Linked DNA regions of Homo sapiens: regions 1, 2, 3, 5, 6 and 7 are each linked to region 4. The links come from fine-mapping of genetic effects on gene expression. A gene starts in region 4. Each other region holds a variant in brackets. All regions are shown on one strand. Distances are from middle to middle.

Region 1 (4,064 bases), 67 kb before region 4:
GCCCCAAAACACGTATAGCAAAAACTCACATAACTAAGAAGAAAACACATGTTCATGATCATAGCTAGAACTGTTCACAGGCCTCTCTCAGTAACTGAGAAACCAGGCTTAAGTCAGTCAGTAAGGGTACAGGAGCTCTGAGCAACAGGATTAGTCAATGTCACCTGACACACACAAAACAATGTACCCAACAACTCAAAATACATTCTTCTCAAGTGCACAGTCTACATTTACCAAAACATATCCTGCGGCAGGCCGCGGGGCGAGGCTTCACAGTTTCAAAGGACTGGGATCACAACGGACACGCTCTCTGATCAACAACCAGGTGAGCACCTTGGAAGCTGAGCCCCAAGCCCAGTTAAACCTTCAGAGGAGAGCAGCTCAACCCACGGCTGACTCCAGCCTCACGGGAGACCCTGACCAGCAACGCCGGCTGAGCTGCTCCAACGCCTGCCCTCAGGCGTGAGAAATGGCAAACGTCTGCTGCTCCAGCCGCTGGGCCGCAACAGGTCACTGACACCTTTTCTAGCTTCCTGAATGGAAAGCTTAGGTGATAAATTTCACGCCCTTCTTCTCTAATACATGGGTTTGGAAGTGATGCATTTCTCTCTAAGCACCAGTTAAACTCTCGGAAAGTACGAAGTGCAGGGCGCAGAGACCCATGAGACAGAAGACAAACAGCAAATCCAGTGAAGCCAAAACCTGGGGCTTTTGGAAAAGAGGAACAAAATTGATAAATCCATAGCAAGAATGATGAAGAACACCAGGTCAAGAATAAAAGAGGGGACATTATTACGGATCCTAAAGATACTGAAAATAAGAGGAACTTTATGCTGATACATTGCACAACTTGGATGAAATGAGGAAACTCACTGAAACCATATTTACCAAAATTAACACAAAAATAAACAAAGTCTGAATAGTCTCACCTCTGTTAAAGAAATCAAACCAAAGATGTTTTCAAGATCCAAGCAAACACTCAGCACAAGAGACTAAGTCACACAGAATCTACACAGCCTGGGCAGACAGAGCATGAAATACGGCTGATCTAGCATGGGGAGGTCTGCAGACCCTGCCGTGTCCCTGGGGTGGAGTCCACTGAGTGGCAGCCTGAGTGGTAGCAACCAGGAAGGGGTCAAGGCTGAAAGGAGGGCCCCGTAGCTGGGCAGGGAGCAGGGGAAAGGAGGGCCCCCAGGGGAAAGGAGGGCTTGTCACTGGGCAGGGAGCAGGGTAACCACTCCCCCGAAGCCCTTTTTGGCTGTCACCCCTCCCTCCTAGCCAAAGGTGGTGCTGCAGGGACTTCCGGCTTGGCGGGAATCGGGTGACCTGGTCTCCTCTCCCACACTCAAATAACTAAGTGAAGGAAAGCTGTGAGTACTTTTGTAACAAGGGCTCCAGGACAGGAGAGAGGCAAGTGCCTGAGTGTGAGCACTCTGTCACATGGCTTGGCGGGAACCTGCAGGAAGAAGGGAAGGCGAGACCACGTGCTCACAGTGTCCTTTCTTTTAATACGGCTGAAATCTTCCACAGCCTCAGGAGAGGGACGTGGACCTGTCTAAGGAAAACAACAGGCTG[C/T]GCGAAATCAGCCCTCAGGGTAACACTGAACCTGGCGCTCTTCCGGCACCACACAGGAGGCGACGCCCGGGAAAGAAGACTGAGCGGCTCCTGTCTGAAGACGTCTCCATCAGTCCAGCCACCTGGTGTCACTGGTATCTGCGAACATTTCCTGATTCTCCATATTTTGTGTTAAAAAATGTATTTTGAGGCTGTGCTGCCGGCAGGCCAAGCGAAAGGTTTCCAGTGAGGGCCGCCCGTCGACGATCTTTGTTCAAGGTTAATCCCAATTTTAGCTTCAATACTTCATCCTGTAGCTCTGTGGCCTTATGGGAGACAAGGAGGGGGAGATGTTAGAAAGGCTGGCAGGACTTAGGGCGTCACCACGTCTCTGGCTCAGATTCCACGTGGGGCCCAGGCCATGTGGGCGTCAGCAGAGCCAGCCCCGCTGCCCCGGGGCCCCTGCAAGCCGCATCACGGCGCGGTCCCCCCTGCAATGGGGCCCAGCAGCCTACTTCCAGCCGGCTCCCAGGCCTTCTACCTCATGAGGACACCACCCTCTGCAGGCACACACATGGCCACTCATCCTGGTGTCCCCACGGCCCCACCCAGGTGTCCTGTGCATCTGCACAGGTCAATGGATGAACAGAGACTCAGGGCATCGTCCTGTGGGCAAAGGGAAGGCTGATGCCACACCCCGGGCAGTGTCTTGGCAAGCATCACCACAGCCAAGACCACACCTTAGAGCCGTAACTGTCCTGGGAAGCAGATGGGGCCACAATTGCCACCCCCACCCCACAGACACAGAAGCTGTGGATCAGGGGTTCCTACAGGAGAAGGAACTTGCTGAGCGTGAAACCAGGGGCAGGCTTTCTGTTCCAAACCTCATGGTCCACGGCCAATCCCCTGGGCAGAACAAAGTGAGGCTGAGGAGGGCACTGCGGGGGGCCCTCAGGTGGATAAACTGAGGAGGGGATCTTCCCGTTCCTGCCCCTCAGGCCCTCTGCAGAGTCCCAACCTCCCCCACTCCAAGCACAGGAGCCCTGGGCCACCCGGCTCCCGTCTCCCTCCCCGGCTTGCCTTGCTGGGGGCACAGGTTGGACACTACCTCCAGTGCAGGTCCCAGGAGACCCCTGCAGCCTCCCCGCCCCATACAGACATAATCACAGCAGGTCCCTGGAGCCACTGCACCCCCTCACCATGCAGCCATATCACAGCAGGTCCCTGGAGCCACTGCACCCCCTCACCATGCAGCCATAATCACAGCAGGTCCCTGGAGCCACTGCACCCCCTCACCATGCAGCCATATCACAACAGGTCCCCGGAGACCCCTGCAGCCTCCCCCGCCCCCATATCGTAACTGTGGGCTAGAGCAGCACTCACGGCTCAGCTCTGCGACTTGGTCAATGTTACTTGTTACTGACCCAGTAAGTAGTCATTGATAACGAATTTTGCTTCCCATAGAAACCTGTATTCCCTGTGGGATTCATAACTGCCTCCTTTTAAAATGTTTGTTTTCTACATCTGTCATTACATCCTCTCAAACTGTAAACCTCTCTCGACATCCTCCTCCACTGGCCAAGTCCTCAGACTGACCTGGTCTCCCTGTGGAGACCCCGCCAGGCTCCTCTCACAGTAGGGGGCGGCCGGGGGCTTCTGGGTCAGCTCCCTTTCTTCTGGAACTCTTACCTTCCTCTCTCAGCATCTACTCCCTTGTTTTGATAGAACAAATTCTACAGTAGCTTCTGGAGAAAGACTCTCTAGATGGGAAGCAGCATTTTGAGTCTTTGCGTATCTGAAAACGTCTTATTGTGTGCTGACCCCTGACCTTGCAATGGGAGTACCGAATCCCGGCGCCTGCTGAGGGCAGTGCCATCACCGCGACCAGCTCCCTCCCAGTGCCTGGTTCTGTGTGATCCTCTCCCCCCGCCCTCCCTGGAATCTCCGTGGGTCCGTCCTGCTCTGGTTCGGGATGCTGAGCCATGGTGCCGGCATGTGTGGGCCCTTCTAGCAGGAAGCACGTTGGTTCCTTTGTGACGAGCCCTCCTGCACCTTCTCCCTCCGTCTGCTCTCGTCTCTCCTGCTGGAACCTGCCGGAACCTGCCGGATGCTTCGCTCTGCTCAGGTCGTCCTCTAACTTCCTTTCCTCTTGTCCCATCTGTTTCCCACCTCCCCTTCCTGGGGGATTTATTCATCTACTAATTTAATTTTTTAAATTTTTTGCCACATATTAAACTTTGCCTTGGGAGTTCTTCTGGGTTACCTGAGTGTTCACTTTCTACAACAGCTTGCTGGGTTTCATGGCAGCAGACTTGTCTATTCCTACGGGGGGATTTTAATTCTGGCTTGTCATTTTTAAGTGTCCCCTAATGTTCGCATCCATTCGAAGCTCGCTCCCCAGCCGGCTGGCTTTGGCCTCTCCCTCACCTTGGGGCTTCCCTCAACAGCTGAGGAACCTCTCGTGACTGAGGCCCTGGAACGAGGCTGAGATCGGGGTGTCGGTGGTGGGC
Region 2 (4,060 bases), 22 kb before region 4:
TGCGTGCGGGGGCGGGGTGTGGGTGCCCCTGCGCGGCAGGGGGTCGGGTGTGGTGCGCCTGCCCGGGAGGGGGCGGGGTGTGGTGCGCCTGCGCTGGGGCGGGGGGTTGCGCTTGCGGTGGGGGGGTTGTGGTGCGCCTGCGCGGGGGTGGCAGGGGGTGGTGCGCCTGCGCACGCACGCGGCCAACGGTAGCATCCGTTTTTCCGCGCCCGCGGCCTTGAAGGGGTGGTGGTCGACGGGCAAGTAGAGACCGCGAGGGTCTGGAGGGGCGACCGGCCTGGCACAGAGGGGAAGGAAGAGAGCGGGATGCTAAGTGCCGTCTGGGGAGCCGGAGGGCCCGGGGCGGGCGGGGCTGCTCGAGGACAGCCGAGCAGAAAAGAATTGCTGCTGAGGCACCACCTTTGGAGCGGTCCTCGCTGCCTGTCCTTCCCGCTGGGCTCACTCCCCGCGTCTCTCCTGGGGCTTCCTGGAGCCACTTCCCACAGGAGCTGCTTGTCCCCAAATCTTGCCTCAGGACTTGCTGCCAGGGGAACGCAGACTCAGAGCGTCCTCTTTGGAGAAGTAAGGCTGCCTCTGGACGGAGGAGTGAGGGGGGCGAGGAAACGCAGTGAGTGTCCTGAGGAAGGGTTTTGAGAATTTGGAAGAAGATGAAATGACACCGGGCGGGAGGGGAGGTGCTCGCGTGGTCCTGTGGAACCCTGGAGTCCCGTGCACCTTCATTCCAGGATCCAACTGATAATGAAAAGTAGCACCCTCTGTCCCACCCAGAAACACTCTGGAAACCCGGACAGTTTAGCTGGAGTCTGCCATGATTTCACTTTTTTTTTTTTTTTTTTTTTTTTGAGGTGGAGTCTTGCTTTGTCTCCCAGGCTGGAGTGCAGTAGCGCGATCTCGGCCCACTGCGACCTCCGCCTCCCAGGTTCAAGCAATTCTCCTGCCTCAGCCTCCCCAGTAGCTGGGACTACAGGCGCGCGCCACCACGTCCAGCTAATTTTTGTATTTTTAGTAGAGACGGGGTTTCATCATGTTGGCCAGGCTGGTCTCGATCTCCTGACCTCATGATCCGCCCCCCTCGGCCTCCCAAAGTGCTGGGATTACAGGCATGAGCCACCGTGCCCGGCCTGATTCCACTTTTTAAAGGAAACGACATAATTATGTGGAGAAACGACTATCCACTTTGAGGGGATTTACGTTTTATTTTTGTGAAGAGATCACAGTAAGAAATGTTTTTTAGGCCGGACACGATGGCTCACGCCTGTAACCCTAGCACTTTGGGAGGCCAGGGTGGGAAGATCGCTTGAGGCCAGGAGTTGGAGACCAGCCTGGGCAACCCAGTCTCTACAAAAATTAAAAAAAAAAAAAAAAAAAAATGCTGGGTGTGGTGGCACACACCTGTAGTTCCAGCTGTGTGGGAGGGTGAGGCAAGAGGATCGCTTGAACCTAGGATTTTGAGGCTGCAGTGAGTTATGATTGTGCCACTTAATGTCAGCTTCGGTGACAGCGAGACCCTGTCTCAAAAAAAAAGTTTTC[G/A]TACATACCCAACTATCTACCAATCAGGAAGCTGAAAGCACAACCAGTACCTTCTCAGGAGCGTGGGGAGGCCAGCCACCCGGGCAGAGCAAGGAGAGAATGAGGAGTGACATGGGTGTTGCCGTGAGTGGCGAAGGGGATGGAAGATTTCAGCACGATGCTATTTCTAACAAGTTTCAGCATTCCAGTATCTCTTTTCACAAATAAAACATTTACTAACCATTTGAGCGTATTCCCTCTTGCTTGTTATTGTTGCCTCAGGTTTTTGTTTCACATTTTTCATGCTACATTAATTTTTGTAGTCAGTAGTTAATTGTATGTACGAGCATGTTTTGCCCTTTACTGTGCTCAGTTTTTGCCCAGCCAGATTGTATCCATTGGTAGCCTTTTGGCAAGTATTCTTGGGTGAGCCTCCCAACGTAGGAACGAATGAAGTGTTCGTGTTGATCTGATTATTGAGTGGCTGTGGAGCTGGTGCCGCGTTCCTTGTTGAGTCATTTCCTGTCTTGATTTTAGGACCTTCCTCCGGGCAGCGACTGCTGCTACCCTGCCGAGAAGTTTGCTGCCCGTGGCATTGCTACTTCCATGAAGGAAATCTATCTTCTCTTTTCATGTCTTTGTTCTGAAATTTCGCTGTGGTATTTCTGAGTATAAGTTGGTTTGGCTGTGTTGCCTGGCGCTGGCCGTGTCTTCTCACCTGAGATAGCTAAGTTTCAGTTCCCAGCCCTTCCCGGCCATCTGTCCTCCCGTGGCACCTCTGCACCCTGACATAATTCTTGTTCTGGATCTCCTAAAAGGGAGTAGCTTGCACCCATTCAGTGTCTTCTCCATCTCTCAAACTGCGCTTCCCAGTATTGGTCTCTGTGTTCTCAGTTTACGATCTTCCAGTTTACTAGTTCTGTCTCCATCCAATTAGTTTGTTTAATCTGTTGAGTTTTTAAATAAAACCGCATTGGTCTCTATTTCTAATTTTCTTTTTTGTGTCTAATTTCTTCCAGTTTTTGTTTTATAATCTGTTTTTAATGTTCACGGCTGTTTTCTTTCTTTATCTACCATGAGAATCCCAAACACCTCTATTTATTTATTTTATTTATTTTTTGAGACAGGGTCTCAGTCTGTCACCCAGGCTGGAGTTCAGCGGTGTGATCTCGGCTCACTGTAGCCTTTGCCTCCCAGATTCAAGCAATCCTCCCACCTCAACCCCTCAAGTAGCTGAGACTACAGGCATGTGCCACCACACTGGGCTAATTTTTGTATTTTTTGTAGAGACGGGTTTTACCATGTTGCCCAGGCTGGTCTCGAACTCCTGAGCTCAAGCCATCCACCTGCCTCAGCCTCCCAAAGTGCTGGGATTATAGGCGTGAGCCACTGCCAGTCCTGAGCCACTGCCCGGGGTAGACACATTTATTTTAAACTGTGCTTTATTGTTTTCATCTCCCCTGGGCGGAATTTACCAGTTGATGGCTGATACTGTTATCTGTCTTCTTGGAGTCCTGTGTTTTGAAATCTAGGCTTGCAGGCTTCTGCAGAGGGGGCTTATGTTCTGTTTCCCTGAGTATTCACTGTGTGTCATGCTCTGGCAGGAGCCTCCGTCCAGCCTTTTGGGGTCATGCTTGGGTGCTTGCCTGGCCTTGCCGTTGGGAACTGTAGATCCAGTCCTGGAGCCAGCAAGAGGCTGGGCCGAAGGCTGTCCTCGTCTCCATCTCCAGATATCGCTGCAGAAGTTGTATGTTTTTTCACATTCCTTTCATGGAAGTGAAACCGCCTTTGCAAAATTATAACTGAGGAAATTATGACAGTGAAAGAGATCAGACCTAACCGATTCCATCTTGCTTCTAACTTTTAAGCTGTCCTTGTTCATTCCTGGGCATAGGCCAAACTAACCTTGGGAAGGAATTCAGTTCATGGTTTGACTCTGAAACAAAATGGGTAATAGCCCTTTCCCGAAAATACCCCCTTCTTGCCCAGGGACCAATCTGCCTTTGCAGGACTAACAAATTAGGTACAATATTAGACATTACAGGTTAGGGGTCCTGCAGCCTCTGGCTCCAAGAGTCTAAACCTCCCCAAATTGCTCCTGGGTATAACATCACTATTGTAAAACCCAAGATCAGAGCTTGAGATATTTTGCAAACCCTGCACTCCACAGATCAGCCGACACCACCCAGACCTGTAATCTCGCTCCGGCAGTTCGGGCACCCACCCAGGAGCAGAAAACAGCAAGGAAACCTCACTTCGACCCCCTATGAGTCCATCTCCAACCTGACCAATCAGCACTCCTCATGTCCCAAAGCCCCACCCTCCCAATTATCTTTAAAAACTCTGATCCCAGAATGCGCAGGGAGACTGACTGAGTAATAATAGTAGAACTCCGGTCTCCTGCACAGCCCGCTCTGCGTTAATTACTCTTTCTCCATTGCAATTCCCCTGTCTTGGTAAATGGGCTCTGTCTAGGCAGCAGGCAAGGTGAACCCATAGGGCAGTTACAGAGGCAAGAGACTTATTCCAGCCCTGGTTTTCAGCGATGCTC
Region 3 (4,064 bases), 76 kb after region 4:
CTGCTGGAGGAACCCCCGCTGTTTCAGAGGGGACCGTGGCAAGGCATGGGAATGTGGCAGAAGAGGAAGGGACGTGGAGGTGCCTCCCAGAACTCGGGGATGCATCGGGAAGTGTCAGGAGGACACAAGGGAGAAACAGCGGCAGAGCTCCCTTGGAAGCGGCTGTCAAGCTCGGGCAGCATGGAGGGTGGCCCTCAAGATGGATCACGGATTATGCACATCCTGCACACAGGTCCTCGATCCCAGGGCGAGGAGAGCTGGGAGTAGCCAGGCAAGGTGTTAAGAGCCTTGGTTATCCCCAAGTGGGAGAGTCCACGAGGCCACAGGTTCTCAGCCACTCAGGAGCAGCATCTCCAAGCTCTGTTTGAAGATAGCCAAGAATCCCAGACCTCATCGGAACGATCGCTTGCATGCAAGCACCAGAAAACAGTATGTCCATAGTAGTTCCACAGTGGCGAGGACTCAGACGGCGCCCCAGCCCATCTGCTCTTCCAAGCCCAGTAAGGCTCCAGCCAGCATGAAGCAGCTGAGGGGAGGCAGCTGTTGCCGAAGGGGCCATCCTGCAGTCGCAGCAACTGTGTGCCTTAGCCCCACGGCAATGTTCTGACTAAACAAGGGCTTTAGGCGGGAGCGCGTGTGGGCCTGGGAGGTAGCTCCGTCCCCTGGGAAGCCGGTGGGCTGAGTGCCCCTGCCTGGCCACCAACACCTGACAGCCATAGGGCATGGGGGGTTCCCAGCCTCTTGGGACAAAGACCCCCCTCTGCCATCTGCAGTGGATGGAACAAGAGCCTCAGTGCCAGGTGGTGCCATCGCAGCATGGCCACTACAGCCGCCACCCAGGCCCCTTGGTGAGCTTGCCAGGGTCCACCTCTTCTTGAGAGGTTTGTGGCCTCGTGAGGCGTCTTAACTTCACCAGCCATGGCCTAGGAAGCAGCCACTAGGCATCGGGGGAAAACTGAAACCCCAAAACGGATTCCCACTCACCGCGTTAGAATCCTGAGCTCATCCAGGGAGAGGGACCTGGGACAAGTGGCCTATGGGACACAGCTTCTCAGGGACGTCAAGAGAACAGCTTCAGGGGGGTCTCAGGAGGGGCAGGAGGAGAGTGAGAGATGGAACTGCCTCTGGAGTGCACGGGAGCCCGGTTCTGCCTGGGGGACCCCTCTGCCTCCAGTGCCCTCCCCAGAGGCCCCATACTGGGCTGCACCTTCTTCAGCCGCTGCAGACACCTTCTCCAGCCCCGTCCTGGGCACTGACCCTCCCGTTTTTGTGGTACCCAGCACTGAACCCTGGGAGGGAGCCTGCCTTGCCCTGTCCCGCCCTGCTGTCCCCACGTCCCCAGGCTCTACTTCTCCTTGGGACACCAGAAGCTCCCCCAGGAAGGATTAGGAGGTGGTTTCATTATACCGTTTAGAGGCCTTAGGTACTTGTGGTCAGGCATTTGCTTCTGGGGAACAAAAATTACTTGGAAAGAGAAAGAGCTTGGGTGAATCACTTAAATCTGCCAAATGCATAAACAGCATTTGGTTGAATTGGCAGTCACATGGCTGCAGGCACCAGCCTGTTCCGGGTGGCGCTGTGGCCTCCCCGTCAGTGGCGTTTCATAGGAAAAGCCCAGGGCTCCGGGTGGCGCTGTGGCCTCCCCGTCAGTGGCGTTTCATAGGAAAAGCCCAGGGCTCCGGGTGGCGTTGTGGCCTCCCCATCAGTGGCGTTTCATAGGAAAAGCCCAGGGCTCCGGAGCCCGGGGTTGGCTTGTTCCTCTTTGTGGTGAGACCTCAAACTCCATTTTCTCTTTGGGCTTAAGTTGGTGATTGGAGGAAGCGGCTGGGAAAGCAGGGACCAGTTTCCTGGAGGAAGCGTTTGAGTCGGACCTGCCTGCCCTCAGCCCCCCAGGCCTGGTCATAAAAGGCCGCCGGTTTCCAGTCTTTTTTGTAAACACTGCTCTGCGTGATCTCGGGTGCTGAGGTCCCTCCAGACAGAGACTGCACCAAACCCAGGGCTTTACGCCACCGCTCGTTGGAGCCTCCTGCATCAGGGGCCCGAGGGAGCCTGCCGGACCCGCCCTCTTCTCTGTTGTCTTCACCTAAGAGCACTTTGATGTGATTGACTTAATCAAATCCATTTCAACGGAAAACCCCACACCACCCCAAACCACCTTCAACGTGCCTGACAGTCCAGGCCTCAGAGGGCGGGTCCTAGTGATAAGGGGCAGGACAGGCTCCCCACCTGCTGGCCTGGGTCAGAAAATG[G/T]TGAAGGAGATTAGGGGAAGTGGGCTGCTGGGTTGGCAGGTGCTCCGGTGAGGGCGCAGCGTGAGCGCAGGTGAGGCTGCTGCCTGCAGGCGTGGCCGCAGGTGCTCAGAGTCTGCAGGGTGTTATCAGGGATGCAGAGACACAGGAGGCGTGGAGAAAGCGAGTTTCCCGCCACAACCAAGTTCCGTAGCTCAGTGTCTGCAAACAACAGAAGTTTCTCTTGTAGTCCTGGAGATGGGAAGCCTGAGACCTGGCAGGGTGGGCCCTCTGGGCGGCTCCGTGGGAGGACCCGCTGTGCCTTCTCCCGGCGTCTGGTGGCTGCTGGCCACTCGTGGTGTCCTCAGCTTGCCGCCATGTCACTCCATTCCCAGGCTGGCATCTTCACATCACTGCCTCTGCTCCACCTTCACACTCCCTCGCCCCCATGCCTGCGTCATCTTCTCTTTTCTGTCTTTTATCAGGGTGTCTATCATTGGCTTTAGGGCCCATCCCAATTCAGGACCTCCAGATCCTCAACTTAATTACATCTTCAGAGACCTTTATTCCGAATAAGGCCACATTCCGAGGCTCCTGGTGGCTGTGTCTTTTGGGGACGCACTCGGGCCTGCTGTGAGGGATCGAGGCGTTTCCACCAGGGTCTCCAGGGAGGCACCATGGCCACTCACCCTGCACTGCCAGTACCTTGCATGGGGCTGGCATATAGGAAGACTTGCAAGCTTTTCTTGAACTGCAGTTGAGCTGAGAATGTTCCAGGACACAGAGCCCAAAGACTCGGGAGACCTGAGTGTAACCCTGCCTCCCCTTGCTCCTCAGGGCAGCTCCTCCCACAGGGCCAGGCCAGGGGCTTGGACTGTGGCTGATGGCTCCACCATCCAGGCAGTTTGTTTCCCAGGTGGGGTAACAGGCTGGAGGCAAGTGGATCTGCTGCTTTGTTCTGGTGGACAGCAGAGCCGTGGGTGTGCGAGGCCAGGCCCTGTCTCGAGGTGGCTCTTCTGTCCCTGCTCCCTGGCTGTGGGTGATGGGATGCGTGTGACGGGGAGAGCAGGCTTGGGTCACAGGGCCAAGGGGCTGGTCCCAGATGGAGCCCAGGCCACATGCTTGGGAAAGCGGGTGGTCCTGGGTGAGCCTGTCTGGCAGGAGGGTGAGGTCCTGTCTGGAGTAGACACCCGGTCTGTGTCCGCCGCACATGTGACAGGGCCCAGAGGGCACGGGAAGCCCAGGTGCCCTGTCCCCTGGTGAGTGGGCTGTGGGGGTTGAGCACCCCAAGGGAAGGCGTGTTCTTCCAGAGATTCCCCCGTAAGAGCTGAGCTGCATCGTGAGCAGGAGGGGCAGAGGGAGCCTGGAGAGGGTTGGGTCGCCTGGGCAGGCAGCTTTCTGGGGTGGTGCACAAGCGACAGAAAGCCTGAGGCTTGGGACCGGCTGAAGACGGCCTTGGGCTGCGGGTGCTGGCGCCGCTCCAGGCAGAGGTGGGCTCTGCAGCCCCCCCCCCCCCGCCAGCTTCCCCCCCAGCAGCAAGAGCCCTGGCCCCAGCCAGTGGCCCCAAGCCAGGCTCCTGAGGGGCAGAGGGTGAGGGCCGGATTTTCCACCATATTTGTCTCACAGCCTGTCTGGTCCCAGCCCCAGGGCAACAAACAGCCTTTCTGGAGCAGTTTCCAGACCTGCAGTGGCCGCCTTGAGCCTGCAGTGACCGTCTGCAGGAGGCCGCGGGTGCTGGGGCTGGCGCAGGAAAGCACCGTTGCTTCTGCGCCTGTGCAGAGTGAGGCTGGGGCTTCCATCCCGGGCACGGGACTCCTCGGCCTCCTGCGGCCGTGTGCA
Region 4 (4,064 bases):
CCTGACTGAGAGGCAGGTGCCTGGCTTGGTGTTTGAGGCTCACAGCAAGGGTGAGGTTGGAGGGTCTCCTAGTTAAGTGTGCAGATGTCCCCATGAACCCCTCTGCCCCCCTGCACTCTTGTCTTCTGCAGGACTTGGTATCCCTAGGTCAAGAGCCCCTTTGGACCCTCAGACCAGAGGACTGTCCATCCCCAACTGCCCGGGCCGGGGAGGCGTCCTGGGCTCTGGCTGTATTCACATTCTCCCGCCTTTTGGGGTCCTGGTTACCTGCAGGTCCTCAGCCTCTCCAATCTTCAGAGTCAGCTTTCTACCTGCTGTCTGAAGTCTATTAACATGTCTTCCCTTCTCCTGTTCCCTCTTAGGTGGTGGTGGGGACGTTATATCTTTTATTCCTTTTCTGCCACTTTTAGGGGTCAGAGGGAGAGGAGGAGAGGCGATGATGTAAGTTCAGAGGCTGCGTGTTTTGGGAGGAGCCCTGGGGAGTCTGATGTGTGCACCGGGTACGCAGGGTTCCAGGCACTGCCCTGCCTTGGTACCTCCCCTTCCAAACGCTCCTTCACCACTCCTGCTGGGATGGGCACCGAGGGCTTCCTCTGAGGCAGGTGCTGAACCCACTGCCTTCTGCGTGCCTGCTGGAGAATGGCAACTTTGAGGGAGAGCAGGGAACAGAGCTTCGCAGCTGCAAGGGCTGAAAACTCGGCTCTGTGCACTGGAAGTTAGAGACCGATGCGTTTGTGCTAGCCAGGCAGGGAGAGCTGCGGTGGCTGGTTGGTCAGGTAACCTAGGTTATGCTGCCATAAAAATACCCTCTAAATCTCAGTAGTGAAATGCATGCCATGTGTCCTAAGCGGGTGCATGTCCAGGTGGGTGCATGTCCTAGGCGGGTGCATGTCCAGGCGGGTGCATGTCCAGGCGGGTGCATGTCCTAGGTAGATGGGCATGGTTCCATTCCTTATAGTCCCCAAGGGATGGGGGCTCCTGTTGGCCCAGAAGCCACACAGACTTCCCGTGCTCACATTTCATGCATCAGGCGGTTAGGGCGGGCGGCCACACTGAATGTCAAAGGCCGTGGGGAGGCAGGGCTCACAGTGGCTGAATGACAGGGTAGACAGTTGTGTGCGGTGGGAGGGACGGGAGCGGGAGACACTGGCCTTGGAGCCATGTTGGGGATCCGCTCATCGTCCGGGCGGGCAGCAGGAAATCCCATCTAGGATTTCACCGAGGAGGAAGAGACCCCGTCTTTGTGTCCTGGTTACAGGGCAGAACTTAAGGAGGTAAAGGCTTCCTAAAGTCAAACAGCCCGGTAGCAAAAACTGATTCTTCAGTGACAAGCGCCAGGGGCAGGCGGCGAGGCTCCATGCAGAGCCGCGCCTTCTCCAGGGCACTCCAAGGCGCCCAGCACTTTCCGCGCAAGGTCGCGCCTGGCCCTGCGCAGGGGCAGAGGTGCCCGGAGGTCAAGCCGCGCCCCAGGCCTCCGAAATACGCCGAGTGCCGAGGCCCCTGTCGCATCTGGACAAGGGGACCCTGGGCGACTCGGGCACGCGGTCTCAGGCCGGACGGGGGTCGCGAGGATGGCACGGGGGTGCCCGAGAGCGCGGGCGCACGTGCTCAGGGCTTAGCGCCCACCCCAGGCGCCCGCGTGTGCGCGCGCGCAGCCAGGCCCGCCCTGCCCCACCCCACCCTCTGGCGCAGCGCTTGGACTCAGCCTGCCGCCTCCTGACCGTGAGCCGGGCTCTGCCCGGCAGATTCCCGCCGCCCGCATCCCGGGCCTGCAGCCCGGCCTCACCCTGCGCAAAGCAGAAGGCTGGAGTTTAGGGCTCCCCGCACTGGGCGGCGGAAGCCCGCGCGCCGGCTGTTTTCACGAAGAAGGCAGGGGAGGGAGGCCCCCGGAGACCGCGAGAAGGTCCCGCCGCCGTGCCGGGCACAGCAGTCCCCGTGCCAGGGACGCCGACCTCCGGGGCCCCAGGATACCCGTGGGGACGCTCCCTGCCTCCCTCGCTCTCGTACCCGCCGTCTAGTCTGAGCCGTGGTCCCCGTGTCCCGGCGAACCACAGCCCCCATCCCTAGACTGGTGGCGGCCACCCACTCCCTAGCGACACTCCAGGCACTAGCCCCGCCCCTGCCCCGCCCCCGGCTCGGCCCCGCCCCTACCCTTCCCGAAGCTCCGCACCTGCCACGCCCCGGCGCTCAGCTCCGCCTCGACCCCTTCCAGGAGCTCCGCCCCGCCCCCGCCCCTTCCAGAAGCCCCGCCCCTGCCCCGCCCCCAGCGCTCGCAATCTACGGGGCGGGTTCCACCGCCCAGAAGAGCGCACGGCGGGCGCTGCCGGCCCCGAGCGCTCCCGCTACCACTGCCGCTCCCGGCCCTGCCGGCCGGCCATGCCCCGAGTTCCGGCTGCCGCGCGCACCCAGACCCGGCGATGAGGAGTGGCGCCGAGCGCAGGGGCAGCAGCGCCGCGGCGTCCCCGGGCTCGCCGCCCCCCGGCCGCGCGCGCCCCGCCGGCTCCGACGCGCCCTCGGCCCTGCCGCCGCCCGCTGCTGGCCAGCCCCGGGCCCGGGACTCGGGCGATGTCCGCTCGCAGCCGCGCCCCCTGTTTCAGTGGAGCAAGTGGAAGAAGAGGATGGGCTCGTCCATGTCGGCGGCCACCGCGCGGAGGCCGGTGTTTGACGACAAGGAGGACGGTGAGTGCGGGCACGGGGACGACGTGGGGGCCGCGCGCTATTGCAGGGGCGGGCGCGGCTGGGCGGCTTTTTCCCGCAGGGGTTCCCCCGGTGTCCGGGACGGCTTCCCGGGGCGCCCCGGCTTCCGGAGAAGCTCGCGCCGGGTGGCTGCGGCCCCACGCGAGTTCTGGGCGCCCGCCCGCGTCCTCCGTTTCTAGTGGCGGCGCCGCAGGAGGAGCAGGCTGGGCCCGGGCCCTCGGGGCGAGGGTCCCCCGCGGCTGTGGCGTCTCCGGGCTTGCGCGCGCCTCCGCCCACCGCCCGTGGCAGCCCTGCTTTCCGCTTTCCGTGATCCGCTCGGGCCCACGTGCGGGCTCGTTTGTACTTTGCAGTTAGAGAGGCGCTCACCTGTGCCGCCCGAGTGCGAGTGAGGCTCCTGCCCCACAGGTGGCGGGGCCCGGCCGCTCAGAGGCTCAGTCTCCTTGGTGACCGCGCGGTGTCCATCCTCTGCTCACCCATGTGCGCTGGAGGCAGGGCCAGGCCGTTGTGCAAAGACCTGCCCTGCCAGGAACGAGTGCGCTGCTGAGTCCTGTAGATAAAGCCGCCAACCCCGGGGACTGGTGTCTCCTGAGTGACCGTGCAGCCGTGGGCGCCATAGAAAGCAGAGAAGGCAGGTGAGGTGACATGGGACAGGCCTGCAGGGACACCTCCCGGGGTGCCAGGGGGCCCCGGGGACCCCCGAATTATCACCTGCAGGGAGATGTGGTGCCGCGTCTGCCTGTGGGCACTGTAATACAGTCACATGCAGACATACAGCTCTTTTCTACAGGTAACATGCAAATCATTTAAAATCGTACATTGATGACACATTTCATGTTTTTTGACATTTTCTTAAAATACTTGAAATGTGCATTTTTCATTTATAGATAGCGTGCAGAGGTATGATGGATCCTTCAAAATTTTAGAGCCCAGCGCTCAGGAGCCAGGCTATTTACTTGCGATAAATAATTTAAGCATTATGGGAAATTACAGTAATACGACCTCAGGCCGGCGTTGGTGAGTGTGGGGCCGTGCACCGCCGTTCCTCCGGGAGACGGCACCGGGGATTCATGGTGTGCTGCCTAGAAGGAGGGCTGAAGGCCCAGCCACACCAGGCCCCACACGCTCCAGGGTGGCCCGTCACTGTGTCCTGAACTTCGGGACAGCAGAACTCACGATGGTGAATGTTTGAGAAATGTTTTTGTTTTTAACATAAATATTCAAAGTAAAGAAAGCCCAGAGTGAACTAGGAGCTGATCAGGAGGCAGATTTGCCTCTCGTTTCTGGCTGCGGGTTGAGAGAACGTCTGAGAAACGCATCTGGTTTAGCACTTGCTGGTGTCAGCCAAGAGCTGGCTGCTCTTCTGGGTC
Region 5 (4,064 bases), 57 kb before region 4:
GTTCTTTAACAAGTTGAGGAAGTTCTCAGCTTATCCTAGTTTGCTGAGAGTTTTTATCATGATAGGTGTTATATTTTGTCAGATGCTTTTTCTGCATCTATTGATAAAACCAACTGATTTTTCTTGTTTAGCTTACTGATGTGATGAATTGCATTGGCTGATTTTTGAACGTTGAATTAGGGTGTGTGATTGCTTTTACACATTGCTGGATTTGATTTCTGAATGTTGAGAATTTTTGCGTCTACATTCATGAGCGATATTGGTCTACACTTTTCCTTTCTTGTAATATCTTTGTATGGTTTTGGTATTAGAGTAATGCTGGCCTCAGAGAATGAGCTAAAAAGTTTTCTCTCTGTTTCTGTCTTCTGGAAGAGATTATCGAGAATTGGTATAGTTTCTTCCTTAAACCTTAAATGTTTGGTAGAATTCACCAGTGAACACTTCTGGGCCTGTGATTTCTGTTTTGGAAGGTAATTAATTATTGATTGAATTCCTGTAATAGATACAAGCATATTCATTTCTTCTGTAAGTTTTGGCAGATGTTGTCTTTCAAGGGATTAATCTATTTCACTAAATTTATCAAATCTGTGGCTAGAGTTGTTCATAATACCAAATCGACTTTTGTGTCCCTAATGTGAAGTGATGGGTTAAGACACAGATGTTTTGCAGCCCTAAGAGGCAGGGTTTGGGTGTCCAAGGACAAGGTCATACTCATAAACGATGGATTTAGAAAGAATAAGAGTTTATCTAAAGGCAGATACAAACTCCTTGGGCTGAGGAGGAAAAGAGTCTCAGAAGTGGGGTCCGAGTCAGGTTGGGTGGGGTCTCCATGAAGTGGCTCCACATCCTGCCCTCATGCCTCCTCTCTCCCATCTCCGGCTCTAGGAGAGAGGGAAACAGCGGAAATGGTGGGAATGGAGCCTGCAGATGGGGTGTGGGGACAGGAAGGCCAGGGTTGCTTCCTCCCCCGTGACAGTGCTGCGTGCTCTGGGGGCAGCCCCGATGCAGCTCGCACCAGCCTGACCTGTGTTCGGGCATGGTACACTGACCTGGAAGAGGCCACCAGCCAGGGGCCTTGGGTAGCTTGAGAGGACAGGCCAGAATCCTTATGGCTGCAGGAAGGGTGGGGACACGGGTATCCAGGTTCACTGCCAGGGACAGCAGCTGTGTCCTTCTACAGCTGGATGGGCTGGCCAGGCAGCAGTTCGGGCAGCAAAGCACTTTCCTTCATTCCTGCGTCTCTCCCACAGCCCAGGATACTCCAAGTACCAGGAGGTGGGCATCAGCGTATGCTGAGTGAATAAACAGCACTGGCGGTGGCTGAGAGGATGGTTAACATTCCAAATATATAGGAGCCACTTCCGTGAGCAGTTCTGCTTAGGAGGCTCCTGGTCAGGAGGCCTTGGATCCCCATGAATATCGGCCTCCCTACATAGACACCGAGCGTGTCAGCCATGGTCCGGTGGCCTCAGCCAGACCCCTCTCTGCAGTGACGCCCCTCATGGCCCAGCCCTGGGCCCACAGCCTGGATCAGCTGGGTGCAAAACCTCAAGCAAGGACCCCACAGACATGTGGAGAGGACTGGTTCCCAGTCCCTGTCAGCAGGCTGCCACTCCTGCCATCAGATTCCCAGTGCTGAGATGCCAAGGCCCGCCATGTGGCCTGGCACATTTGAGGGCTCAGCCCCTCGGCTGAAATGTTTTCCTTCTCATGTGACCAACTGTAATTCTGGGAATTTCTACACCTCATAAGACACATTCCACACAGTCCCACGGTTTTAGAGAGCGCATGCTCTGAAGAGGCACAGTGAGTTCTCTTTATTTTTAATAAAACAATGTTTTAGGCTGTGCACAGTGGCCCAGCAATTTGGGAGGCCAAGGCAGGTGGATCACTTGAGGCCAGGAGTTCGAGACAAGGCTGGCCAACATGGCAAAACCCTATCTCTATTAAAAATACAAAAATTAGCCGGGCATGGTGGTGTACACTTGTCCCAGCTACT[C/T]GGGAGGCTGAGGCAGGAGAATCGCTTGAACCTGGGAGGTGGAGGCTGCAGGGAGCCGAGATTGTGCCACCGCACTCCAGCCTGGGTGACAGAACAAGACTCTGTCTCAAAAAAACAAAAACAAAACAAAACAAAAAACACCCCACACTTTTTTAAACAGAACCAAGAAATCCTTACAATTTCCAGATCCTCGGCAGCCTTCCTCATCTCCTCCAGTGGGGCCTGGCCATGGAATCTTCTTTGCTCACGCATTTGGAGGACGTGCTGTTTTATCTTCTCTTCTAAATTTCTCTCCTGCAGGGCACTGAGAAACAAAGGGCAAAGAGGGAAATGACTTGACACATTTACTCTCATCCTAGCAACTCCCGCCATAACCAGGGAGAAAGCATGTGCCTTTCTTCCCAGACCAAACAGCGGTCCTGAGGCTCCCGCACAGCTGTGCCAGTTACTGTGGCGCTGCCCTGGGCCTCCCCGGCACCCACTCTCCTCCAGACTCACGCCGGGGGGCCTGGGCTGCCTCTCCCATCCCTTCTTCAGTAGTTCAGAAGCTGCCAGAACACACACTATTCTTATTTAAAAACCTCAAATTGATTTAAGATATGACACATTTAGGACACTGCACACTGCACCACATGAAGGGAAAAGCAGGTTTCTGTTCCCACATGGAATACACGGTTTTCCTAAATCCTTAAACAGACAAACAGAAAAGTGTATTCAATTATGATTTTAAACATATTTTCTGTTAGCACTGGGGCTCAGGGGTTTGGGGTTCCTTTAATTTTAAAGACAATGACTCAGGGTGGTAGAAAGAGCTGGGGATCTGCTGCAGGTGAGCTGTGGGGTGGCGGGGTCCACTCCAGTCTGCGTGAGTGTGGGGCCCCAGGGTGTGGGCGTGGAGGTAGATGTAAGGGTGGGTGTAAGTGTGGGTGGGTGTGAGTGTGGGCGTGGAGGTAGATGTAAGCATGAGTGTAAGTGTGGGCGTGGAGGTAGATGTAAGTGTGGACGCGGACTGCATGAGTGTGGGGCCCCACGGTGTGGACGTGGGTGTAAGCGTGGGTGTGCAGGTAGATGTAAGTGTGGGTGGGTGTTAAGTGTGGGCGTGGAGGTAGATGTAAGCGTGGACGCGGACTGCCTGAGTGTGGGGCCCCAGGGTGTGGACGTGGGTGTAAGTGTGGGTGTGGAGGTAGATTTAAGTGTGGGTGTAAGTGCGAGTGTGGAGGTAGATGTAAGGGTGGGTGTAAGTGTGGGTGGGTGTAAGTGTGGGTGGGTGTGAGTGTGGGTGTGGAGGTAGATGTAAGCGTGGGTGTAAGCGCGGGTGTGGAGGTAGATGTAAGGGTGGGTGTAAGTGTGGGTGGGTGTAAGCGCGGGTGTGGAGGTAGATTAAGTGTGGGTGTGGTCATGGGTGTGGTGTGGGTGTTGGTGCGGGCGTGGGTGCATGCGCCACTGTGAATACAATGGCACACAGTCTCACTCAGCCTCTCCGAAGACCCTCTTACTCCCAGCAGCAGGGTTTGTGCCGGTTTTGCTTGCTTTTCAGAGTAACTATGGAAAAGAAAGCATGATGTCCTCTGGAGTTCTACAGAACAGAGCCCTCAGGTCAGGGCATGCCCTGTGTCAGCGCCTCAGACTCCAGCTTTTACTGTGCCCAGGGTGATGGGGGGTTAGCGGGCCACTGTGGTCTGCTGTGGGCTTTTTAAAGGCCAAATATGGCAGGTAAACTCCCTGGAGGATGTAAGAGAACATTCAAATGTTTGAGACGAAATGGTTTTAGTCTAAGCCATTTTCACGAGGTTGGGGAGTTAATACAACCTAGTTGGCCTTCGAGATTTTCCCTAAACACTGTCAGCCTCCAGGAGGAACAAATTCTGCAGGAACAGAACATGCCCTTTGTCACCCACATCTCATCCCACCTCACCCTTCCTCCAGGTTTCTTACATCGCAGCCGGGATCCAGGGTACGTTAAACTGAGTGGGGAGCCCCCTGGCAGACGTACGCTGAGCAGCAGGGCCGGGGCCAGGCCCTGGGCCTTCCAAGCTCAGGCCCCACGGTCTCTTCTGCTCTGGCC
Region 6 (4,064 bases), 52 kb after region 4:
CGATTTCCCGGGGCAGGTGGAGTCCGTGCACTGAGGAGAGCCTTGCTGGTCTTTGCAGCCCATGTCAGGGCCTGTGGCTTTCAGGGGCCTGCTGGGCCGCGGCCTCCTTTGGGCCTCAGGCAGGCTGCACAGTGGAGGCTCGAGAGCCCTGAGTCCCACCTGCAGGTGTAGAGGAGCCCCCAGCCCAGGGCAGCTGATGGGTCCCCTGGGGGTGTTTGGTTCTGGGGCCCCCTCCTAGTGTCTGCAGAGGGGCCTGGTGGAGGGTGGGGGTTGGGGGGAGGATTGTGGGGGTGTCAGGCCTGGGATTGCCATCATTGGCTCACAGTGGGCGCCCCTGGGGACAGAGGCAGAGAGAGGGCAGGGCAGGGGGCCGGCAGCAGGGGGTGGGCACCAGATGGGGTGGACAGGGGTGATGTGGCTTTCTGTGCCAGAACAGGCAGCATCCTGCCACCCACTCCTTCGCAGCTCCGCCCCGCCCATCTCTTTGGCTGGGGGGTGTGATGCTCCCTCCCTGCTCTGAGTCACTCCTCCTCCAGCTCTGCCCCTCTCCCTGGGAGCTCTCAGGCACCCTGAATGACCACAGCCCGCTGGCCTAGGGGCCTGTGGCTGCCAGGAGCCACCTCTTCCTAGGAGCCCCTCCGTCTCCCTCTGTGGGAGACAGTGGCACGGGTGTGGGAGGGCTGTGCAGGACCCCAGGGGCTGCAGGTGGGAGGATGGAAGGACAGACACGTGGACAGGGCTTTTTCCAGCCTTGACCCACCCACACACCTACCCATCTCGTGCTGGCCTCTGAACACACTGACCTCTGGGGTCTTTCAGGGCATGTCCTGTATCCACAGGCCTCACCCCCCTGAGGACCCAGCCTCATGGGCAGCCCCCAGCTGGTCCCACAGCGAGCCCTGAGTGTGGCCCTTGGTGCAGCCACACCCCAGGACACAGGGCCCTGCCCATCCATCTGCTCCTGGCCAGGGCTCCTTCCTGGGCTGTTCTGCTTTGATCCCCAGCCCTGGGATCCCACTGGGCTCGCTCCCCCTCATCCAGTGCTGCTGCTGCTGTGGCCAGCGTCCCCCCCACTGGCTAGGCACACCTGCCTCAGGGTTCAGGACTCAGGAGGAACCCCAAGCCCCACCCCGAGTCAGGGCTGTCTCCATTGCAGCTCCGGGGTCCCCAAGCATCTGTGCCTCTGGGCGGGCAGCCCCAGGAGCAGGCTTCTCAGCTGCTGCAGGGCCAGGCGGCCTTGGAGTCCTCCAGGTCTGCCCCTGTGGGTGGTCCTGGGGTGCTGGGCCCTGCGCAGTGAGAGGCAGGGGTGGGTGGGGCCGGGCCTTGGACAGTAGGACCCCTCTAGGCAGCCTGGGGGGAGGTGCTGCTGCCCACCTCTCCAGCGGTTTGGGGAGCTGGAGGAGCCCAGGTCCCTGCTGCCGTGGGCGACTCCTGCGGTCTCAGGCACTGCGGTCTCAGGCCTGAGCCTCTGCCACCCGGAGATACTGTATTGATCAGGCGGTTGCCCTAATCACTCATTTATGGCAGATCCCCGTGTTGTCTGAGGATGTCGATATTAAACACCGGAACATGATTCCAGACAATTTCAGACCAGACAGGACCAGGATCCACAGTGCTGGCCTGGGAAGCTGCCACTGAGCCTGTTTTATGGGTGGAAGCTTTCACTGCAATTAAGGTGGGGGAGGGAGATGGCAAGAATGCTGCCGCCAACAGGGTCCTGCTGGAGGTGTAGGCACCAGGACCCCGGGCTCTGGGTGTGTACCTGGGCAGGAGAAGCCACAATTGTTTCGGAGCCCAGGGGCCCCACAGGACTCAGCTGTGGGCTGCTGCCACATCCTGGCTGTGTCTGTTTCACAGAAAAGACAGGGTGAGGGCATCGCTGCCAAGATGGAGCCTGGGGCACAGGGTATGTTCCCAGAGTAAGACCCCAGTTGGCTCCCCGAGGCTGGAAGGGTGGTGGTGCCAGCTGAGGACAGAGCCCTGTCCCGGAGCTGCCCAGGGATGCCGGGAAGCCGCCAAGCCACCCGGGCGAGTCCAAGCTGGACACCAGGGCTCCAGGGTGTGCAGAGGCTGCAGGCTGCTGGTCATGGGGGTCTGCCCCTGGGTGAGGGGACGGTGGAGAAGGAGAAGGTGGCCAGCTGGGCCCTCGGAGATGCGTGGGCAGCGCACGTAATGCTGGGCCATGGTGCTGGCACCCAGGCATGACCTCGAGGCTCCAGGCCCCCTCTGGACTGAGGAGTCCAGGGTCAGAGGCCGGCACCCACACCCTCATCCCCTCTCCTGATCTCTGACCTTCCTGCCCTGGGGTTTCAACACATCCTCAGTGGTGCAGGAAACCGCGTGGGGCTCAGCAAGGGTTGAGGGACCTGCTTCC[T/C]GCAGGGCCCCCTGCTCCTCTCCTGGGTGCTGCTGTGGCTGGACGCTTCTGCTCTATGTTCTCCGCTGTAACTCGGGAGCCTCCTCACCCCTGCCCAGCGGCTCTCATGCCTGTCTCTAGCCCCCACCTGTCTTGTCCCCATCTGCGTCAACCCTGCCCGTCAGCGTGGTGGGTCTTTGTTCCCGCAGGCCATGGCAAGAGGGTGAGGGGTCTGTGAGGTGATGTCTGGTGACTCCTGTGGTTCCTGTTGACCTAGCGGGCCAGGGCACCTGAGGAGTGGGAGTGGGGGGCACCCATTGCCAGGAGGAGCTATCGGGCCGGTTCCAACTCTTCCACCTGGCCCGGTATTTCCTAAGTCAGGAGCCCCGTGTGGGCCAGACATCCCCAGAGGCTGCACAAGCTCTGCGGGGCCTGCGTCTCGGAGTCCTGGGGGATGATTTTCCTCATCATAAGCACTTCCCAGGTCATAGGAGACGAGACGGCATTTAATCAACTTCTGCGTGTGTTTCAACCACGTGTGACATTTGATCTTTGTGACAGCTCTCACAGTAGTGCCCACTTCTGCTGTGCAATCCTCCCATTGGTGAACGGGCTGGTTCTGCCTGAGGACACTTGGACGTGGGGGCCTCTTCCGGATGAGTGGGTGGGGTGGGCTGTGAAGGGAAGCGTCCCAGGCCTGGGACACGCCTGCAGCTGTGGGCAGCTCATCCACCACGTGGCAGCTCTGAAACTGTCCAGCACCCACTTCCCGGGCCTCCAAAGACATCAAGAGGGGACCTGGGGTGTCAGGAGCAGAGCTGATTCTCCAGCTCTTGAGACAGCCTTCGCGTGGGGTGCACGCATTGTGCCGGGGTGACATAGTGCTGATTCCCGGCGCCCTGCGGCAGGCTTATTTTACTCTCCTGGGCTCCCAGGTCTGGGGGCAGCCTTCGTGGAGGGTGCACGCATTGTGCCGGGGTGACATAGTGCTGATTCCCGGCGCCCTGCGGCAGGCTTATTTTACTCTCCTGGGCTCCCAGGTCTGGGGGCAGCCTTCGTGGAGGGTGCACGCATTGTGCCGGGGTGACATAGTGCTGACTCCCGGCACCCTGCGGCAGGCTTATTTTACTCTCCTGGGCTCCCAGGTCTGGGGGCAGCCTTCGTGGAGGGTGCACGCATTGTGCCGGGGTGACATAGTGCTGATTCCCGGCGCCCTGCGGCAGGCTTATTTTACTCTCCTCTCTTCTTTTGCTGTCCTCATTGGGAGTATTTTCTTACCAGTTTTGATACAAGCCCTGGCTTATGAAAAGGCTATTTTTTTTTGTTGTTTTTTTCTCCCCTGATGGAGTTTCGCCCTTTTTGCCCAGGCTGGAGTGCAGAGGCGCGATCTTGGCTCACTGCAACCTCTGCCTCCCGGGTTCATGCCGTTCTCCTGCCTCAGCCTCCTGAGTAGCTGGGATTACAGGCGCCCGCCACTATGCCTGGCTAATTTTTTGTATTTTTAGTAGAGACGGGGTTTCACCATGTTGGCAAGGATGGTCTCGATCTCCTGACCTCGTGATCCACCTGCCTCGGCCTCCCTAAGTGCTGGGATTACAGGCATGAGCCACCGCGCCCTGCCTGAAAAGACTAGGTTTTAACCTGAAACTCCACTGAGGCTTTGGGCTTTCCTAACATGGTTTGTTATTGGAAGTGCTCTTTCTATGCCCAT
Region 7 (4,064 bases), 82 kb after region 4:
TGGTGAACCTCTGGTGAGCCTGCCATGGCCTCGCTGCAGAAAGACTTACCGTCCTGAAGCCGGGAAGGCACTGGCTATCCTCTCCTGCCCTTGGTGCTCCTTGGCCCTCGTGCCTCGGAGATGCCTCTGCCACCCACAGGCCCTCTCTAGCCCTCCTCATCTATCCCCCTTCCTGTGCCCCAGGCCTGGCAGTGGCCCAGGTGGCCATGACATGCTGGGGTTGGTTAATGCAGTGTCTCTTCTGAGCCTGCCGGAAGACCAGGGCTTCCCTACAATGGAGATGTGCTCCCATGGAGTCTCTGGCACTAGTCAGAGAGGGAGAGAGTTTAGGGACTGAAAAACTCACCACTGTCATCACCATCACCATCACCACCATCATCGCCATCACCACCACCATCACCACTGCAACCATCATCACTCTCATCACCGTCATCACTATAATCAACACAATCACTATTGTCACCACCATTACCACCACCACCACGACCACAATCACTGTTATCACCATCACCACCACCCTCAGTCCTCACTACCGTCATCCTCACCATCACCGTCACCACCACCACCATCACTGCCATCGTCAACACCATGGATGCTGGTTGTTAAATGCCAGCTCTTTGCCCAACACTGTCAAGAGTGGTACCTACACGGCCTCATTTTCTGTAACAACCCTCCGAGGCAAATGTCTGTATCCCCATTTTACCGAAGAGGAGGCCGGGCAGCCTGAAGCACCCGGAGCTGGCACTGTAGCTCTGCTCTGCATTTGCCACTCCCAGGTGCCTCTGGCCCCAGCTGGGCCACCTCCAGCACAGGGTGGTGTGTCTTTCCTCAGGATCTGGGCTCAGAGCTGCTCTGGGCTGGGGTGCAATCAGTGCCTTGGGCAGGCCCCTCCTCCTGGGAATGCCTGGTGGCTGATGCTGGGGTGGGGCTGTGGTCCTTAGGGGGAGTGTGTCAGCTGTGGGAGCAGCCATGACTGGCTCCCCAGCTGTGCGCACAACAGGCCTTCCATCGGTGCCCACAGGTACTCCTTCCAGGACGAGGAGGACATGTTCATGGTCGTGGACCTGCTACTGGGCGGGGACCTGCGCTACCACCTGCAGCAGAACGTGCAGTTCTCCGAGGACACGGTGAGGCTGTACATCTGCGAGATGGCACTGGCTCTGGACTACCTGCGCGGCCAGCACATCATCCACAGGTGTGTGCGTGGCAGACGGCGCAGGTACCTGCTGAGGTGGGCGGGGCTGAAGCAGCCTTAGGTCAGGCTGCCGGCACGGCGGCCGTACTCCCTCAGAGCGGGTCTAGCTCCTCTGCCCCACCCTTGCCTGAGTGCCTGCCCCCAGCTGTGGCACCTGTGCCGACCAGGTCAGCCCCATAGCTGTGTGCCTGGTGTCCATCTGGGGGGACCTCGTCCCAGCAGCCCCAGCTGAGACTGGGCACAGTGGGCTGTTAGCCCTGGTGGACAGACCACCAGGCTGGGTCACAGCAGGTGGCCTTCACCTGGTCCATTTAACTGAAGGCTCCTGTTTGCCCATCCACCACATCCCAGGGAATCCAAACTAATTTTAACATTAGCTTAAAGCAGATGAAATTAGGAAGCAGAGC[T/C]GGTGTGATGGCTCTGAAAATAAAATTTAAAAAAAGAAAATAGGAAGCAGATTATGAAGGAAGTGAAATTGGGAAGCAGAAATTAGGCTGAAATTCCGCAGCAATGGAACAAAATGAAAATATCTGTGAGGTATATTTTAAAGTCGAATGGACTGGTGTTTGCATTTCTGCTCTTGGGGACTCGGATGTCTGATTATGACCTAGGCACCAGTCACTGAGCACTGGCTGTGTACCTGGAAAAGTTGGGACAAAGCAAGAGCCGAGGTGGCTTGGTCTCCTAGAGGCCGAGTCTTGGAGGGGGAGGGCAGACCCTGCCAGCAATTGCTCTCGTCCTCTGGGGCTCCAGGCCCCCTCCCAGCATCTGGTGCCAGGTGTGTGCTGCTGCCCAGATGCCACAGGGAACGAAGTGGCTGACTTCATCGCCTCTGCCCCCACGCAGGGGTGTGAGGTCCTAGCATCATCCAAGGACCAAGTCAAGCTCCCAGGCCTCTGCCTCGAGTGGGTTGGTGGGATGTCCTGGGGACTCCAGGGATTGTGACAGAGATTCCAGGGCAGAAACAGGGCAGATTCCCAACTCACCTTCCCACTTTCTGCTCTTTCTAGAGATGTCAAGCCTGACAACATTCTCCTGGATGAGAGAGGTGTGTGGGGTTGGGTGTGGGCAGCCCAGGTGGGTGGTGGCAGGGATGGGCCTGTCAGGGGAGGAGGATCCTGCACGCAAGGATGCATCTCTGGTCCTGGGACAGCCACACCTGACCCCTCTCTGCACAGGACATGCACACCTGACCGACTTCAACATTGCCACCATCATCAAGGACGGGGAGCGGGCGACGGCATTAGCAGGCACCAAGCCGTACATGGGTGAGCCCGAGCTGGGGTTCCAGATGGGAGCTGGCTTCCTCCAGGTGGGAAGGACAAGACCTCGGTGGCTTCTCTGTCCCACCCTGGAGGCAGCCTGGTCTCGGGATGTGGCCTCAAGGTGCCGGCCCTGTGCCCACGGGTCCGGGCTGTGACCCCGTGGCAGCTGTTTTTCCTTCTTTCTGTCGGAAAGCTCCGGAGATCTTCCACTCTTTTGTCAACGGCGGGACCGGCTACTCCTTCGAGGTGGACTGGTGGTCGGTGGGGGTGATGGCCTATGAGCTGCTGCGAGGATGGGTATGGACCCCCTGCAGCCCCTGGGCTTGGCTGCCAGGCCCCTGCTCTCTGCCCCCACCAGTGCTGGGGAGGGGGTGGCTGCCCCAGTGTCCAGGTGCGCAGGGATGTCTCCACTGTGTCTGAGGAGTCACGCTTTTATCGAAGTGTGTAGTTGGTGATGGAATGCCTGAGCAGGAGGAGGAAGGACAGACTCACTGTGGTTTCCCGGGGCCGCTGCTGGTGCCTGCAGGCCAGCCTCTGTGGGGGTGGACAAGGCTGAGAACTGGCCAGCAGGGGTGCTGCCTCGGAACTTTCCACAAAAAGTTTCTTTTGGGGCCCTGTGCTCTTACCCTTGTGGCCACGGCGAGGCCAGTCCTGGAGACCGGGAGGCTGGGGGTCCTCTTGTGGACCGTACCCCTCAGCCCTGCACAGGACCCCACCTCTGAGGAAGCCAGCTCCCTCCTGGCCCTCTGGGGCTGATCTACCTGGACCCAGGCCCCCTGGGATCCCAGCCAGATGGGCGCAGCAGCCAGGGCGCAGGACCCAGGCGTAAGCTTTATCTCACCCAGGCTCCTCCGCGGCAGGTGGAGGCCAGGCTGTGCTCAGAGCTGTGCCTGCACTTGGGGTGGGGGGAGGGGGTCCTCTCAGGGCGATGGCACCTGTGTCTGGCATTGTTCTGGGTGTCCTGGGGGCCAGGAGGACCTGCCCAGCACTGCCTCCCTGTCTCCAGAGGCCCTATGACATCCACTCCAGCAACGCCGTGGAGTCCCTGGTGCAGCTGTTCAGCACCGTGAGCGTCCAGTATGTCCCCACGTGGTCCAAGGAGATGGTGGCCTTGCTGCGGAAGGTGAGCCCCCATCCCTGAGCCTCCTCACCCTCCGAGCACCCACCTCCCTCCCTCACTTACCTGCGGCTCGGGACACCCCCTCCAGTGCACAGTTAGTGCCGCTTCCTGGCAGGCACAGATCCCTTCACTGCAACCTGTGGGGGCCTCCGCAGATGGCAGCCCCAAGCCCCAGGAAGCGAGCTGGTGGCAGGCTCTGTGGCCCTCTCATGGCGAGCCCTACCAGGTCACTGGTGTCCTGGTGATCCCCTGAGCTGCGTCTCCAGGCACCCTCACAGCAGGCTTGTGCGCCCGCCCTGCCGGTCACCACAGAGGAGCCCTGAGCCACGTCCCCTTGTCCCACGTATTGGAAGGAGGGTGTCGGGTGGGTGGGTTCAAGCCCATGCTATCTCCGGGACCCTTTGCCCCAGTGCCTCCTGGGGAAGGTGGGCAGCCACTGCCCACTGCAAACACCTCTCAGGGGACATCAGCCTGGCAGGGACAC

What was found. PIP is the estimated chance that this variant, and not a neighbour inherited with it, causes the effect.
Region 1: its variant is fine-mapped to the expression of STK32C in whole blood (TOPMed, PIP 0.99).
Region 2: its variant is fine-mapped to the expression of STK32C in testis (GTEx, PIP 0.92).
Region 3: its variant is fine-mapped to the expression of STK32C in whole blood (INTERVAL, PIP 0.98).
Region 5: its variant is fine-mapped to the expression of STK32C in pancreas (GTEx, PIP above 0.99).
Region 6: its variant is fine-mapped to the expression of STK32C in whole blood (TOPMed, PIP above 0.99). The same link has a PIP of 0.9 or more in NK cells, blood mononuclear cells and naive CD8 T cells.
Region 7: its variant is fine-mapped to the expression of STK32C in whole blood (TOPMed, PIP above 0.99).

The regions. Positions count from the first base shown.
Region 1 is chr10:132,372,882-132,376,945 of GRCh38, reverse strand. LRRC27 (leucine rich repeat containing 27) reads right to left here. Exons shown (of 11, transcript NM_030626.3): 11 at 1-1,880. The coding sequence ends at 1,704. Among named protein-coding and RNA genes, the nearest start is that of PWWP2B, 22 kb to the left of the region's middle. The variant C/T (reference allele first, on the strand shown) is at 1,576.
Region 2 is chr10:132,327,983-132,332,042 of GRCh38, reverse strand. It overlaps a transcript of STK32C not described here and a transcript of LRRC27 not described here. Among named protein-coding and RNA genes, the nearest start is that of LRRC27, 2.2 kb to the left of the region's middle. RefSeq lists a silencer at 29-148 and an enhancer at 33-567. The variant G/A (reference allele first, on the strand shown) is at 1,531.
Region 3 is chr10:132,230,357-132,234,420 of GRCh38, reverse strand. All of the region lies in intron 2 of STK32C (serine/threonine kinase 32C), which reads left to right. Among named protein-coding and RNA genes, the nearest start is that of DPYSL4, 45 kb to the right of the region's middle. The variant G/T (reference allele first, on the strand shown) is at 2,250.
Region 4 is chr10:132,306,187-132,310,250 of GRCh38, reverse strand. It overlaps STK32C (serine/threonine kinase 32C), which reads left to right and starts at 2,301. Exons shown (of 12, transcript NM_173575.4): 1 at 2,301-2,679. The coding sequence starts at 2,418. RefSeq lists enhancers at 488-1,030, 1,031-1,575 and a silencer at 1,828-2,477.
Region 5 is chr10:132,363,663-132,367,726 of GRCh38, reverse strand. LRRC27 (leucine rich repeat containing 27) reads right to left here. Exons shown (of 11, transcript NM_030626.3): 10 at 2,177-2,303. Among named protein-coding and RNA genes, the nearest start is that of PWWP2B, 32 kb to the left of the region's middle. The variant C/T (reference allele first, on the strand shown) is at 2,000.
Region 6 is chr10:132,253,938-132,258,001 of GRCh38, reverse strand. All of the region lies in intron 1 of STK32C (serine/threonine kinase 32C), which reads left to right. Among named protein-coding and RNA genes, the nearest start is that of STK32C, 52 kb to the left of the region's middle. RefSeq lists enhancers at 2,748-3,247, 3,248-3,749. The variant T/C (reference allele first, on the strand shown) is at 2,375.
Region 7 is chr10:132,223,926-132,227,989 of GRCh38, reverse strand. It overlaps STK32C (serine/threonine kinase 32C), which reads left to right. Exons shown (of 12, transcript NM_173575.4): 3 at 1-13; 4 at 1,022-1,195; 5 at 2,206-2,243; 6 at 2,374-2,463; 7 at 2,654-2,757; 8 at 3,467-3,583. Among named protein-coding and RNA genes, the nearest start is that of DPYSL4, 39 kb to the right of the region's middle. The variant T/C (reference allele first, on the strand shown) is at 1,603.